Homo sapiens: one gene and its partners. The protein of the gene in region 4 purifies or fractionates together with the protein of the main gene of each other region. This does not show direct contact. Each region holds a gene or a part of one and is shown on either strand. Other genes may lie near its edges.

What was found. The genes of interacting proteins can lie anywhere in the genome.
Region 1: the proteins of RLN1 (region 4) and MAN1A1 purify together in Homo sapiens (affinity purification with mass spectrometry; one large-scale study listed by BioGRID and IntAct). This does not show direct contact.
Region 2: the proteins of RLN1 (region 4) and NAAA purify together in Homo sapiens (affinity purification with mass spectrometry; one large-scale study listed by BioGRID and IntAct). This does not show direct contact.
Region 3: the proteins of RLN1 (region 4) and EDEM2 purify together in Homo sapiens (affinity purification with mass spectrometry; one large-scale study listed by BioGRID and IntAct). This does not show direct contact.

The regions. Positions count from the first base shown.
Region 1 is NC_000006.12:119,182,262-119,185,761, forward strand, and holds part of MAN1A1 (mannosyl-oligosaccharide 1,2-alpha-mannosidase IA), read right to left. Parts: intron 1-3,500. UniProt on the Homo sapiens protein: Involved in the maturation of Asn-linked oligosaccharides. Progressively trim alpha-1,2-linked mannose residues from Man(9)GlcNAc(2) to produce Man(5)GlcNAc(2).
Region 2 is NC_000004.12:75,917,014-75,920,513, forward strand, and holds part of NAAA (N-acylethanolamine-hydrolyzing acid amidase isoform 1 precursor), read right to left. Parts: intron 2,963-3,500; coding exon 2,896-2,962; intron 1,777-2,895; coding exon 1,748-1,776; intron 761-1,747; coding exon of another isoform or gene 685-760; exon of another isoform or gene 102-684; coding exon of another isoform or gene 89-101; exon of another isoform or gene 1-88.
Region 3 is NC_000020.11:35,130,337-35,133,836, forward strand, and holds part of EDEM2 (ER degradation-enhancing alpha-mannosidase-like protein 2 isoform 1 precursor), read right to left. Parts: intron 1,448-3,500; coding exon 1,306-1,447; intron 1-1,305. Other genes in the region: MMP24-AS1-EDEM2 (ER degradation-enhancing alpha-mannosidase-like protein 2), read right to left, coding at 1,306-1,447. UniProt on the Homo sapiens protein: Involved in the endoplasmic reticulum-associated degradation (ERAD) pathway that targets misfolded glycoproteins for degradation in an N-glycan-dependent manner.
Region 4 is NC_000009.12:5,336,560-5,342,166, reverse strand, and holds the start of RLN1 (prorelaxin H1 preproprotein), read left to right. Parts: upstream 1-2,290; 5' UTR 2,291-2,420; coding exon 2,421-2,631; intron 2,632-2,739; exon of another isoform or gene 2,740-2,804; coding exon of another isoform or gene 2,805-2,905; intron 2,906-5,607. UniProt on the Homo sapiens protein: Relaxin is an ovarian hormone that acts with estrogen to produce dilatation of the birth canal in many mammals. May be involved in remodeling of connective tissues during pregnancy, promoting growth of pubic ligaments and ripening of the cervix.

The sequences.
Region 1 (3,500 bases), on a different chromosome or scaffold from region 4:
GGATATTAACCCCTTATCAGATATATGGTTTGCACACATTTTTGTTGTGTTTTTAGTTGATTGTTTCCTTTGCTGTAAGGAAACTTTTTAGTTTGATGTAGTTTCATGTGTTTATGTTTGCTTTTGTTGCCTGTGTTTTTGGGTCGAATCCAAAAAATCATTGCCAAGCTCAATGTCAAGGAGCTTTTCCCCTGTTGTTTTCTCCTAGGAGTTTTATGGTTTCAGGTCTTACATTTAAGTCTTTAATTCATTTTGAGTTGTTTTTTTTTTTGTGCTGTTTATATTTTGAAATTACATTTGTTGCTCTGCTAGTTACCAGGCATATTCATCTCTAGGAAAGTTATTTTCTGCCATCACATCCTACTAATCCTATTAATTATATGGTCAAATAAAAATTTCCATCGTACAAAAATTGCCATCTGCAATCTGGTTCTCATTTATTGACTGTAGACAAAAATAATAAAGTTTAAGACTAAAACCCTAATATATTTTATAGTGAAATAAAGAAAATGTAAACAAGATATACTTACTCTTAGTTTCTCATGTCATTTTTCACTTACGTTTCAGTTTTCCCCTGTGGATCATAATTCTGTCCCTCTTTTTTTTTTACATATATAATTGTACCCCATTTTTCTCCCATTTAATCCAACTACCAAGAAGATGGAAAGCATAGACTTTGCCTTATCAGTTGAGAAAAACCTTCTCTGGCTAGAAAGGATTTTGGAGGAAAATAAGGCTCTAAGAATGTAGAGCCCAGAAAAGAGGCGAGGGAAAGTAAGTACCAGCCACGGATTCTCATGAGCAGAGATGTTGCACTGAGAGCTCAGCTCCCATCTGCAGATACTGATAATGAGGTTATTGATTTTTCACATCAGGGCTGGAGGACAGAAGGGAGAGAGCAGAGAGACTATGAGGAGAAGCATTTAATTACCTGGTTAAAGAAATTCTGGCCAGCAGGCCACATGAATAAAGAAAATAAAGAAAATGCCTCATGATTTCATACTTTTAAAAAGCCCCGAAGAAAATAAGACCGATCAACTTAAAAACAGATGCTTCGATTAAATTCTAAGTTCCAGACAGTGCGTCAAATGGAGGATGAGCATGAAGAAAGAAACTTTCAAGTCCTATTATTTTTTCTTTCCTCCTTTTTTTTTGACAAAGAGTCAAATACCAGATATGTAGAATAAGCCAAAAATTATTGGTTAAAAAAAGGAAAAAAATCAGAATTTAGAAAAAATGGGCAAGGTTTTTATGGGAAACCCTATTTCCGGATATTTCTTTAAACAGATTTTAATCCCAAAACCTTTTCTTAGTTGTTCCCTTGAGGTTTTTTGGTAATGAGCTAATGAGAGGGCCAGCCATGATAAACAGCCACTCCTCCTCTCCATGGAAACTGCTCTAAGCTCCTTCTTTTGTTAGAGGAGTTGCTTTTGGGGTGGACAATGCCTAATCACCTTTCTTTCTAGTTCACCCTCTCATTCTTGTTCCCCACAAGTCCTCTTGGGGTAAGCTATAGTATTCAAGAACACAGCCAAAAATTTTGAGTAGTGGGCCAACTTCCAGCTTGAGACCCCCTTATCAGTGGCCCCAGAGGTTCCATGTCCCAGGCAGCATCTTCCTTCTCAACATGGGGTTGTACGTGAGAATAAAACAAAATGAAGAAATGCTTAGACAATAACAAGGGCTTCAGAGGTTTAGAGAGGCCCAGTCACTTTGCTTTTGAAGTTTTTGGTAAATTAAAAAAAAAAAATTTTTTTTTAAAGGAAAAGCACCCAAGAACTCCCCCTCACCCCTTACGCAAAAGTCTAGATTTTAAGACTTTAGGAACGTGAAGCTGGGGACAAATAGCTTTCCTGGGCCCTTACAACAGCCCTGATTCTATCAGCATCTCAACAGTGGAAGCTGTCATGTGTTTGTATGACTAAGTCTAACCAGATCATCATTGTACTATAATCTGTTCTTGGGATTCTCAGCCTCTAGGCATGGGGACCACCTTGGTTTTGAGTAAATGCTTCTATTATTAGTGATCCTATGTGACTGGGATGTGCAAATAGCAGAGAACAGGATATGAGAATGTTTATAATGATTGGAGCTCTAAACAAAGGATGAAGGGTAGGTAAGAAAATAGCAAGCATCATGAGTTAAATCCTAAGTCAGAGGACAGAAGAGTATTCTCTTGCCTACCAGATATATAAATGGCTGATCCGTGGAGTAAGGCTGTCTGCTTGAGTGTCGTCTGAACTCAAGGATAGAACACAGAGAATCAGGCACCTTGAACAAATCAAAGAGGGTTTGGAAACAGGATGAAGCCTGAGGAGGCAGGAGTAGGAAGGAGGAAAAGAAGTCACTTCCTGAGAGTCGAAATGTCTGAGTGGAAAAGGTTAGGTTTAGAAGAGCAAAGAAAATGTCTGTGCAAAAAAACAAAACCAAAAAACCTGAAACTACCAAAAAAAAACCCCCTAAAGCCAAAAAAAAATCCCAAATCCCTAGGTAAGGCTTTACCCTTTACCATAGATCAGCTGAGACATTATATAATCTATGTGAATATATACATACAATATTCTGATAAAGCTCATGCTGTAAGTTATCAGATGTTTAAATGGAAGGAATTTGTCAGTTTCTCATGATTTTTTTTTTTAAAATTTTCAAGAGAGTCTCGCTCTGTTGCTCAGGCTGGCGTGCAGCGGTGTGATCTTAGCTCAAAATAACCTTGAACTCCTGGGCTCAAGTGATCCTCCCTCTTCAGCCTCTTGAGTAGCTAGGGACTATAGGAGTGTGCCAGCATGACGGGCTAATTTTTAAATTTTGTAAAGACAGGGTGATGACTTGTTGCCCAGGCTGATCTCAAACTCCTATCCTTGAGCCATCCTCCCACCTCGGCCTCCCAACATGCTGGGATTACAGGCTTGAGCCACCACGCCTGGCTTTCATGACATTTTTGAGAAAAAGCAAAAGAAATTATCAGTTAAATATTATTTCTGTCAGGCAGACTCACAAGTGCTTGAACACCTGTGATTAATGGAGTGCTGTTAACCCACAAAAGAACTCTCTAGTGTTGTACTGCTGGATTATATACCTTTTCACATCTTATTTGACATTATTATTAGAAATTTAATTAAGACACAGAAAGCAGGTTTCTCAAGTGTATCAGTGAAAGAAGGCTGGGAAGGGAGTGCTTTGTTAGAAGATAGGAAGACGGCTTACAAATACTTTACAAACTGAAAGTATGGGTGAAAAAGCACAGTGCAAAGGAGATGTGACTCAACGGTAGCAAATGGAGAAGCTAACACTGACCATAATTTCAATATAAGCCAGTTTTTCTTTATTTTTTTGGAGTTGGAGTCTTGCTCTGTCCCTCAGGTTCGAGTGCAGTGGCGTGATCTCGGCTCATTGCAAGCTCCGCCTCCTGGGTTCATGCCATTCTCCTGCCTCAGCCTCCTGAGTAGCTGGGACTACAGGCGCCCGCCACCACGCCTGGTTAATTTTTTTTTGTACTTTTA
Region 2 (3,500 bases), on a different chromosome or scaffold from region 4:
AAGTGATCCACCCGCCTCGGCTTCCAAAGTACTAGGATTACAGATGTGAGCCACTGCGCCCAGCCAGATATATTCATCACTTCTATAATTACCTAAAAAAACTATAAGAACACAAAAGTAGTTTATTAACCCCCATTTAAAAAATGACTATTAAAAGGGCAACATTGTGCCCCGCTATGAAGGGTACAGTCAATAGTGCATTGGAGCTAGCTCCTACAGTCTGGTGAGGGCCAATTATTAAATATGCAGGAAGTGTATGAGCCAACTATAAGCCTGAAATCAGCCATGTGGGAGTATTCACACCATGGAAGTCAACAAATGCTACAAATTTGGGAATTTTTTCATTTGTCCCTTCCCACACAAAGAGCTGGTTTACTAGCAGACCACTGGGTATGCTTTGTTATCCAAATAGCTCATTTGTTTGAGTAGCAGAATACTGACTAATTAGTTTTCTTTTCTTTTTTTTTTTGAAACAGAGTCTCGCTCTGTTGCCCAGGCTAGACTGCCATGGCATGATCTCAGCTCACTTGCAGCCTCGACTTCCCAGGTTCAAGCAATTCTCCAGCCGCTGCTTCCCAAGTAGCTGTGATAACAGGCGTGCACCGTCATGCCTGGTTGATTTTTGTATTTTTAGTAGAGACGAGGTTTCACCATGTTGGCCAGGCTGGTCTTGAACTCCTGACCTCAAGTGATCCACCCGCCTTGGCCTCCCAAAGGGCTGGGATTACAGGCGTGAGCCACCGCACCTGGCCTGCTTTCACTTAAAAAAAAAAAAAAAAGAAAAAGAAATTAAAAAGAATGTGAGTAAAATCCTAGGCTATACACTAGAGAAACCATTGCTCACAGAATGCTGCTATCAAGGGTACAGGCTAAAAAAGAACATTAACTAAGCGAATTGTCAGTGGAACAAGGAACAGCTTCGGAGATAGTGGAAATTCCTCCGGAGGATAAAAGAAAACCAAAGGTATTCAGAATTTATTTCTAAGGAGCTCCTAACAGGTGAAGGCTGTCCACAGCTACCTGACTGAGTTAGGATGAACACCTCACTGCCAGAATATTTCAAATGTAGGAATCAAGAGGTCAGCCAGTCAAAGTGTTTTTCCTTCTAGTTTGACAACACTATGGAAGGCCAAGTTTGAATTTAAGATTCCCAGAGCTGGCCGGGCGCAGTGGCTCACTCCTGTAATCCCAGCAATTTGGGAGGCCGAGGTGGGCAGATCATGAGGTCAGGAGATCAAGGCCATCCTGGCTAAAACGGTGAAACCCTGTCCCTACTTAAAAAATACAAAAAATTAGCTGGGCGTGGTGGCACGAGCCTGTAGTCCCAGCCACTTGGGAGGCTGAGGCAGGAGAATGGTGTGAACCTGGGAGGCAGAGCTTGCAGTGAGCCGAGATTGCGCCACTGCACTCCAGCCTGGGTGACAGAGCGAGACTCTGGCTCAAGAAAAAAAAAAATTCCCAGAGCCTCCTTCAGGGTCACTCTATTCTTTTTACCTTTGGATTTCTTCATGGACTTCTCACCTGATTTATATTTGTTTATCACCACCACCCCCACCCCACCCATATTAGTCCCATGAGAGCAGAGACTTTGTTTTGCTCGCAGCTGTACCCACAGGAGTGCCCCCACAGGAGTGCCCCCACAGCCTGGTTACAGGAGCCCTCAGATCCTTGCTGAGCCAAACAGTACGTGAGTGAGTTCACTGTTCTGGAGTGATGTGTGAACAGACATGTTTAACAAGCCACTTACTTGTTATAAACTGGAACCACCGACAAAATCTGCATAGGAAAAAGTCATTTTATAGAGAAGATTACATGGTAGAAGAAATACACATAGAATATCTATGGAGGGCCGGGTGCAGTGGCTCAGGCCTGTAATCCCAGCACTTTGGGAAGCCGACGTGGGAGGATTACTCAAGCCCAGGAGTTCAAGACCAGCCTGGGCAACATAGAGAGACCCTGTCTTTACTAAAAAAGAAAAAAAAAGAATGTCTGTAGAAAGAACATAACCACTCTTTAGTGTACCTTGAGGTGATATAGACTTTTTTTTTGAGACAGTCTTGCTGTGTCACCTGGGCTAGAATGCAGTGGCATGATCTTGGTTCATTGCAACCTCCGCCTCCCAGGGTCAACCGATTCTCCTGCCTCGGCATCCCAAGTAGTTGGGATTATAGGCACACACCACCAAGCCTGGCTAATTTATATATTTTTAGTAGAGACGGGGTTTCACCATGTTGGCCAGGCTGGTCTCGAAGTCCTGACCTCAAGTGATCCTCCTGCCTTGACCTCCCAAAGTGCTGGGATTATAGGTGTGAGCCACCACATCCGGCCTGACTTTTTAATTCTTTCTCTTTTTTTCTTTTAAACAATGAACATATATTACAACTATGACTTTTTCTTTTTAATATAAAGAAAAACTTTGGTGAAGATGGACATTTTAACTTATATAAAAGCAAGTTGAGAAAATGTCATATAATTTTTTTTTTTTTTGAGACGGAGTCTCGCTCTGTCAGGCTGGAGTGCAGTGGCGCAATCTCGGCTCACTGCAAGCTCCGCCTTCCGGGTACACGCCATTCTCCTGCCTCAGCCTCTGGAGTAGCTTGGACTACAGGCACCCGCCACTACACCTGGCTAATTTTTTGTATTTTTAGTAGAGACAGGGTTTCACTGTGTTAGCCAGGATTGTCTCAATCTCCTGACCTCGTGATCTGCCTGCCTAGGCCTCCCAAAGTGCTGGGATTACAGGTGTGAGCCACCACTTTTAATACATGATTTCAACCAAATAAAACTTTTACCCTAACGTTTTCATCTACCAGAAGATTTCACGGAGTTTTTCATATTCACTATTAACAAAACACCAAACATCCTAGGTATGCAGGACACTGTGACACAAGTTACCTGGAAAAGTGCCTCCAGGCTGAGGTTTGCTTGTCCTGTAGCATTAAGGGCCTTGATGGCAGATGTTCTGTAAGGACAAAGGTCGAAGGTCACTTGGCATTTCAACAAGCACTGAAGCCCATCAGCTGTCATTTTTGGGAGGCAGAATGCAAGCTCCAGTCTCATTATCTCCCTTTCTCCAAAACAGATTCTGGCCCCAAGCCTGTTTCCTGCTGAGGCCCAGCCCACCACAGTGGAATTCATCCAGCAGCTGGGACGGTTGGCACCATCTGCTCCAGAAAGCTGGGATGATGAAAATGTGTGGCTGCAGAACTGAACAGTGGCCAAACTTGTGGGGTAGTAAAGCCAAGGCAACGTATATAGCTACCTGCACTTTGGAACTGTGCTGACTTATAATTATAGAATGTTTACAACTTGAAGGGACAATAAAAACCCTTGACTGGTTTATTTATTGTTTAAATAAGGGAAATAATTTCCTTCTAAAAATATCTTGCCTAGAAGACCATGAACCTGGCCCTTTGCTTTCATTTTACAGACTGGTAAACAGAGGCCCGAGAGCCACCCAGTGAGTCACTAGCAGAGCTGGTGGTGGGCTCTAGGGCTCC
Region 3 (3,500 bases), on a different chromosome or scaffold from region 4:
TGGGATTAAAGGCATGAGCCACTGTGCCTAGCCGAAAAAGTTTAATTTATAAATTAGGCATGGGAAGAGATTAACAACAATAACTAATAATAAAGCAGAACAAGTATAACAATATATGTTATAGAAGTTATGTGAATTTGTCTTTTTGGTAAGAGACAGGAAAAAAAGAAATTATGTAAATTTAGTGCCTCAAAATATCTTTGTTTTTTTAGAGAGGGGGTCTTACTATATTGCCCAGGCTGGTCTCAAACTCCTGGCCTCAAACAATCCTCACTTCCAAAAAACTGGGACTACAGGCGTGAGCCACTGCACCCAGCCTCAAAATATCGTATCTGACTGTACTCACCTATTTTCAGACTGCAGTTGACCATGGATAACTGAAACCATGGAAATCAAAACTGTGGATAACGGGGGACTACTGTAGCTATAATAATAATAGTAATTAGGTGCTCAACAATTCCTCAAGATTGCTAGTGTCTAAGGGCCTGGCGGGTAAGATGTATTTATTCAACAGGTATTAATCTATTACCTACCACATGTAAAGCACTGTGGGGAACATAAGATGAGTAAGGCATGGATTCTGCATTCAATTTGTAGAGCTGTAACTGTTGATGAGAGCTAACTGCAAGAAAGATGCTGAAGGTCCCAAATTCTGTAGAAGGATCAAGCTACTTCCTGGGCAAGGCGACATTTAAGTTAGGCTTTGAAGGGTGAAAAGAATTTGGACATAGGAAGACAGGAAAAAAGACATTCTAGGCAAAGAAGATGCCATGTGCAATGGCCAGGAGATAAGAAATCCAGGGCTACATACACAGAATGCAGCACGCTTCAGTTGGCTTTTGCAAGAAGGCATCAAGTGCTGTAGTGGGCATGAAGTGGGCAGTGTAAGTCCATAGTGACTCTGAATTCAGAACTGATTCTGCAGGCACTCAGGCCAGGCGTGGTGGCTCACACCTGTGATCCCAACACTTTGGGAGGCCAAGGCGGGCAGATCACCTGAGGTCCGGAGTTTGAGACCAGCCTGGCCAACATGGTGAAACCCCGTTTCTACTAAAAATACAAAAATTAGCTGGATGTGATGGTGTGCGCCTGTAGTCCACACCATCACATGCCCAGCTACTCAGGAGGCTGAGGCATGAGAATCACTTGAACCTGGGAGGCAGAGGTTGCAGTGAGCCTAGATTGTGCCACTGCACTCCAGCCTGGGAGATGGAGCAAGACTCTGTCTCAAAAAAAAGTTTTTAAACAAATCACACATCAGCAAGAAAAATGAGGGGAAAAGCTCCCTTACTCTGCCATTTTTACCTAGGAACATGGCCATGAGCTTCTTATCCTGAAGCAGGATGGCTCCTTTCACCAAGTACTCAAAGTAGGAGTCCACGCCAGCCCCGATGCCTGCGTCCTGGGCCACCCACTTGCCAGTGAGCACATCAATGTGGTTGCCGACCTGAGAGAGAGAAAGACACACGGTCCCAACGGGAAGGCCGATGGCCAAAGAAGGATCTACTCACCCCCAACCCTGACTGCCCAGGGAGATGCAGGGCAGGTGCCCCAGTGCTTCTTGGGAAACATGCAGACCCTGAGAGGGAAGGGCAATGCTGGATCATGGCCAGCCTTCCTGTACATCTGCATAGTAGAGATGCATCTCATGCACATTTATGAGGACTTAATTATACACATTGAGCAAAAAATGAAAAAGAAAAATGATTTGGAGTGTTTATGTCCTGCCTAGAGTGAGTGTGAGATGGGAGATGAGAATTTGCTGTTGCCGCAATCTGTCTGATTTCTCAGCACCCAGCATGTGATTCCACTATCTGAAGACACAGACGTGCTTTACGTATTTCCATAAATTAACTCAATAAGAACATCCACCAAGAAGCTGACAGAGTGGTTCTAAGGAGAGAAACCGAATAGCTGGAGACAGGGGCAAAAGGGGACTTCACCAATGTCACTGAGTACCCTTTTTTGTATCCTTTGACTTTTTTTTTTTTAATTGTTCAGTCTCTGTAGAGACTGTGAAAAATTGGCAATGCCGGCCAGGCGCGGTGGCTCATGCCTATAATCCCAGCACGTTGGGAGGCTGAGGGGGGCAAAATCACTGGAGGTCAGAAGTCCGAGACCAACTTGGCCAACATGGTAAAACCCTGTCTCTAATAAAAACACAAAAATTAGCCAGGCATGGTGGTGTGTGCCTATAATCCCAGCTACTCAGGAGGCAGAGGCATGAGAATCACTTGAACCCAAGAGGGGGAGGTTGCAGTGAGCCGAGATCGTGCCACTGCACTCCAGCCTGGGCGACAGGGGGAGACTCTGTCTCAAAAAAATAAACAAAGATACGTATTTTTCTATTTTATTGTATTTATTTTATTTTTTGTATTTTTAGTAGAGACATGGTTTCTCCCTGTTGGTCAGGCTGGTCTCGAACTCCCGACCTCAGGTGATACGCCTGCCTTGGCCTCCCAAAGTGCTGGGATTACAGGCGTGAGCCACTGCGCCCAGCCAAATATATGTATTTTTCATATGGCTTAGACCCTCATGGAAGCTGGTAACTTCATCTGGTACTCAAAGAAATAGCTAACTGTTCCGCGTTGGTTTGTGTCCCCCCAGGAGCACAACCTCATTCTGCCTGAAAGTAGTTGATTTGGAAGGTAAGTCCTTGTAAACACCAGTAGAGGAGGGGGAAGTGAGGCAGGGCAAGGGAGGCGGCATTTAAGGGGTATGCCATCAGGCAGGTTTCCACCATGGGAACTGGAGTTCAATCTTGCTGGGGAGCTTAGGAATTCAGTGTAGAGCTCCAGCTTCGGAGTGATCCCACCCAAGGGGCAGGGAACTGGAATGTTTATCCACCAACTCCCATCAGTATCAGTTACCGGCTTGAGAGCTACTCATGGGTAGCATTAAATCCTGGTACCCTCAGCCAAAGGCAAGCAGAGTGGCTCCAGGCACCAGAGGAGACCCACAGGCAAAGAGGCGCAGGTGATGGCAGTTGGAAGACTGGCCAGTGTGCATGGAAATGTTAAGAGTTGAGAGGATATGGGCATGGCACCAACAGAGTCTACTACGGTCCCACTGCTGGAGCAAAACCTGCCTGAGATGGACTAAGGGATTTACTACAGGTCTCCAGCGGGGCACCTTTTTTTTTTTTTTGAGATGGAGTTTCGCTCTTGTTGCCCAGGCTGGAATGCAATGGCGCGATCTCGGCTCATCCCAACCTCCACCTCCCAGGTTCAGGCAATTCTCCTGCCTCAGCCTCCCAAGTAGCTGGGATTACAGGCATGCACCACCACGCCCGGCTAATTTTGTATTTTTTAGTAGAGATGGGGTTTCTCCATGTTGGTCAGGCTGGTCTCGAACTCCCAATCTCAGGTGATCCGCCCGCCTCAGTCTCCCAAAGTGCTGGAATTACAGGCGTGAGCCACCGCACCCAGCCTTAGGGGGGCACCTTCTTAAGGGATTTTCGGGGAGTCCTCACACAAGCTTTACTTTTCAAGCTGGATTAG
Region 4 (5,607 bases):
TTTGTTTAATGTCCGTATATTTTTCCTGTTATTGATTTAAGTTTCATACCATCTTGGTCAGGAACAATATTTGATGTGATTTTGATCTTAAATTTATTATGACTTGTTTTGTGCCCTACCAAATGGTCTATCCGGGAGAATGTGCACTAGAGAAAAATGCGGATTCTGCTGTTGGATAAAATGTTCTGCATGTATCTGTTACGGCCATTTTGTCTACAGTGCAATTCAGTTTCAATATTTCCGTATTAATTTTCTGTGTCTTTGATCTGTATGTTGTTGAGAGTGGAGTATTAAAGTCCTCTCTCATTACTGTAGAAGAATCCAGTAGACATGGGTTGGAACCCCACCTCCAGCATGTGACAGCTGTATGCATGGACATATTTGTTGTTTCTCCTTAAAAAGGTTTCCTTTTTGTTTAAAGGACATGAAATGCCTTTTAGTTGTGCCTGTAAAGACTGTGAATCTTGCATTTGCCTGTGATCCTTAGCAGTAGGGTAAGCCCACATCTGGCATATGTGCTGGCCAAAATTACCCTGAACAACTCTCAATCTGTTTCTTCTTTCTGTAAAATGGAAAAGTGGCCACTGTACTGGACAGTTTTAAGGACTCTGTAAAACCATGTAGGCAACATAAAATTTCAAAACATCCCTGGACACTTTGGGAGGCCGAGGCAGGTGGATCACCTGAGGTCAGGAGTTCGAGACCAGCCTATCCAACATGGTGAAACCCAGTCTCCACCAAAAATACAAAAATTAGCCGGGTGTGGTGGTACATGCCTGTAATCCCAGCTACTTGGGAGGCTGAGGCAAGAGAATCGCTTGAATCTGGGAGGTGGAGGTTGCAGTGAGCCGAAATTGCACCATTGCACTCCAGCCTGGGTGACAAGAGCCAAATTCTGTCTCAAAAAAATCACCCAAAAACAAACAAAAAACTCTGGAAATTTACATTTTTAATGAGCAATTAATTTGGAGTACAGCCTAGCACGTGGATTGTTTTTACAAGGACTGTTAACCCACGAAAATATTTTCAAACCTCAGTTTTGAGAGGCCTTTCTCAAACTGTGTGTTTTAGTGAAAATCCATTTAAAATCATTAATTGCCTCTAACCATCTCATAGCTTTGGTCAGGTATTTTTTGAAGAATTACACATTGCTTGGCATTTGACCAATGTTAAGTGGGCCTACTGAAATCACCAGCAATCTAGAAATTAGAATTACTTGATTCCATAGTTATGTTTGTAACTAAGAGATTGTTATTATTTTATTTCAAAGCTACCATAACGTCCTGCATGTCTCCAGTTTATCTGATGGAGCTGAACTAATCTGAGTATATTATGAACACAAGCAAGTAAGTTATTTTTAAAAATGAACCTATTTGTACTAAAAATTTACAGGTAGAAGGGTCGTCTACTAACCATATTATCTAGAACTGTGTGGATCTTTAAAATGCTAAATTAGGTGGTGGTAATAAAAAAAGAATCACCTCTAACCAGGTGCAGCAAACACAAAATACAGTAAACAAATGAACATATCCTTGTGCTGTAATTTGTTATCAAAATATTATTTCTGGGAATGTGGGATGTCCACTGCTTTTTTTCCCCTTCTTCTTTCTCTTCTTCTTTTCTCTCTCTCTTTCTCTCTCTCTGTGTGTGTGGTGTGTTCTCCAGTCTCCAGAGACATAGACTAGAATTTTAAATTAAAATATTTAGACAACTAGTTACAATCAAACTTCTCCCACAGGAGTGGAAGGAAAGTCCAATGGAGAAATTGTTTTGTAAATTAAAGACATTACTGCACAAGCCTAAAATGATGTTACTGGGGATTTTAATCTTTTTACCTGGATTCAGATTAAAAGTCATCAGTTTTCCCTCTCATCAACAATTTATTCATTCATCCATTATATTTTTATGGATTGATATGCCCAACATTATACTAATTAATCCAATTTATAAGGTAATCTATAATCCTATTTAGGTTAGAAGGGTTTTTGGCAAATGTTCACTCTGGAAAACTGGGTTGTAAGAATATTGGCGATCTCAATTTTATTTCTGTGTATGTAAAAAGAAAGGCTTCATATCTAAAATAACTTTACCTAAGTATACAAAGTTGTTTCAGGGTAACAAAAGAGCGAAAAACAAAACTGTAAAAGGGCCAAGGACAGAGGAATGGGCAAATGAAGGAAGGGCGGAGAGGCAGAACAAGAGCTGAAGGAGAAAATTCTGTGGAGGGGTGTGGGAAAGGGGTGGAGCTGGCAACCTTGCCTTAAAAGCTGAGTGATAGCCCATACTAAAGACTGGTTGAGCCGGGTAGGGAAAGCAGCCTAAAGCCCGGGACAGGCACACAGGCCCAGGTGTGTAGGCCACAGCAGCCGCAGTCCTGAAAGGCTGCAACACCCAGACCTCCAGGAGAGACCAGGCCCAGGATGCCTCGCCTGTTCTTGTTCCACCTGCTAGAATTCTGTTTACTACTGAACCAATTTTCCAGAGCAGTCGCGGCCAAATGGAAGGACGATGTTATTAAATTATGCGGCCGCGAATTAGTTCGCGCGCAGATTGCCATTTGCGGCATGAGCACCTGGAGCAAAAGGTCTCTGAGCCAGGAAGATGCTCCTCAGACACCTAGACCAGTGGCAGGTGAGAGCTCCCGCCCCCTCCCGGCCTTCCCGCGCTTCCCATTGGTTACTCTGGGGCGGCCGCCCAATTGGAACGGCGGCCTGCACGTCCGACTCGAGATCTCATTGGCTGCCACCGCTCAGCCCCTACTCAGCCGTGGCTGGTCCCTAAAGTTTGGGCTTTTCCTTTGCCAGGTGATTTTATTCAAACAGTCTCACTGGGAATCTCACCGGACGGAGGGAAAGCACTGAGAACAGGAAGCTGCTTCACCCGAGAGTTCCTTGGTGCCCTTTCCGTAAGGCAGTCAGAGCGACGGGGTGGAAAGGGAGGGGAAGCCTCAGAGGAGGTGACGCCGCCCGGAGACCCGCAGGAGGCCGGGCGCACTCCTGCACCCCACAGGAAAGCCAGGCGGCCAGACAGCGGGCGTGCTGGTGGGGGCACCTGAACAGGGCTTCTCGGATAGAGAGGAGAGGGGACAAACACTGAGGCGGCGCGCTAGTTATCAAGCCTGTTTGCGCGCCTGTAGGACGGGGCAACACTCTGAGGTCTCTGTGAGGGTCCCGTGATGGGAAGACAGGAAGGGCCTTACACTTAATGACTCTCCTAGTCCAGAAGTTGGGCTGTGGCCTTTGCCATTGGAAACGTTCTTTAAAATAAACAAACAGAAAATCCCAAAGGAAAGAGTCTGACCTCCCGCTTCTTTGATCTGGGTATTGAAGTTCATTTGTGAGGCAGGGGATGGAAGAGAAAGGAAAGGCTTGAATGCCTTTAGGAGAAACTCAAGAGGACCAGAGACAAGGAAAGCAGGCCGTTCAGACCATCATAGCTGAAGACCCTACTGATGCTTTCAAGCATTTGGAAGCTGCAGTGGGTTTGCTTTAAAGGCAAGCTCTTAGAGTTGAGTACAGCTCAATCTGAAATGGCTTTTAAAAATATTTTAGTATTTATAAAGTAGCAGTGGAAACTCATGGAGGTATATACTAGTCTAAGAAGTGTAACGGGTCATATTAAATTCAGAGAAAGTAACCGCAGTTGCAAATACTAAGTGTTTTGTATTAGTATGACATGTAATTTATGATAAACCGCAACTAAATTTTATAGGCTATATGCATATACTATATATAAATGACTCTAACAGAAATACATTTACTTCTCTTTTATGAGATTTAAAGTATGCTTCTAAAGTTATTTACTTTTCTACATTGTTAGAGTTTGATTTATTTAATGGCAGTTTTTACATGACTTTTGTATAACATTAGTACAAAAATACCACAACGTCTAGGAATTTAGTGATAAAAAGTAGAGAAGACCGGATTGCATTGCATTTGCTTTATTATTCCACATTTTCTGACTATAAAAGTAGTAATGCTCATATTAAAGACAAATGTACATTAATGCAGCGTGAAAAATGAGAAGCACTCGTAGATATTAAGGACTTTGAAAAGTATATGTGAATTTTATGAGAAAATGAAATTATATTAAACAAGTAAGTGGAAAGAAATGTTAACATTTGGATAGGTATATGTATATATCTTTTGCATTTTCACTCACCATTATACTTTGAGCAGTTTCTCACATTGTTATTATCCCAAAACATAATTTGAAATTCCTGTGTAGTATTTTTGTCATAAATCTGCCACATAAACTTAAAGATTCTTTGGTGGATATTTAGTTTATTTCTAAATTGTTGCTGAAAATCATTAATCACATTTGTATATAGATATTTAGCTACACTTTTATTTCTTTAGAAGAGACATGAGATTTCAAAGTATTTTTAAAGAATTTTCTTTATTGCTATGCAGTATAATTTAACTGAAAGTAACCTCAGAAAATATTGCCTGCACGTGGGATTAAGATAAATGTTTACCGTTACTAGGTAGGAATCGCTTTGGAAGTACATGTCAGTAATTTGTGATTAATATGAGTTTTCAGACTTATACTGTTAGGTAATTGCTACTTGCTTTCACGTTATTACACTGTTAGATAACCATTTTATCTTACAATGTGTGCCAAAGTAATATTCACTGCATCCCTTTTAAAAATAAGATCCGCTTTAAACCAGAGATCTATTTCAGTAAGATTTGCATCCAAAATACAGTGAATTAAGGGTATTTGCATGAATTCAGACAGAATATTTTCTCTGAGCCTAGGTTCCATAGCTAAAAGTGTTATGGATTATGAAATATTTCAAAACAGGTTTAAAAATATAATTTTAATAAAAGTTCAAAACACACAGCCTATGAATAAACTGAATACAATCTATAACTGTTTTGGCTGATTCATTTAACTGGCTTTAAGTATACAGAAAATTACCATCAGCTTTTTTCAGCATTTAATAAGACTGCAACTACAGACAGTTTAGGTTGGAGCACAGAGACGTTTTTATGAGGAAATTGAATTAAACTTAGGATGTCTTAATGAGGGAAAATGCCAAAACCTGTCATTTAACCAAAAATGATATAAATTCTCATCTGTCATTTCCAGTTTAGAATGTGGATGAGCGAGAGTGTTAGGGGCAAAGACAAAATACTACAGGTTTTTTGTTTTGTTTTGTTTTGTTTTGTTTTTTATTGCTCTGTCAAACTCCAACTGTTGAAGTTTGTTGTTGGTAAAAGGAGAACAACTGATTCTTTTGCCACAAAACTCAGGAAATGATCAGCCCCAGAACTACCGCTGTCTAGGTGAAGGGTCGTGGTTTCCTCTGATCAGCAGGCATCAGTGGTTAACCAGGTGTCTGCCTCCCGCACTTAGATTTACTCCTCTCTTCTCTTTCTTTTCATTATTTCAAGAGTAATGCCTTGGTATTGGATAGTTTTCCTGTCCAAGAAGAAGAGCAGCAAGACCTGATCTGAGTTTACACTATAATTTAAACATTGTCAGTGTTTATTTCTTTGTGAAATAAAACTCTTAAATTGTATAATTAGGATAATTAAGGTTAGGAGAGAGTTTAGCTCACTGTAAGTTTTTTGACAGCAAGAAACATTTTTAAAAATTTAT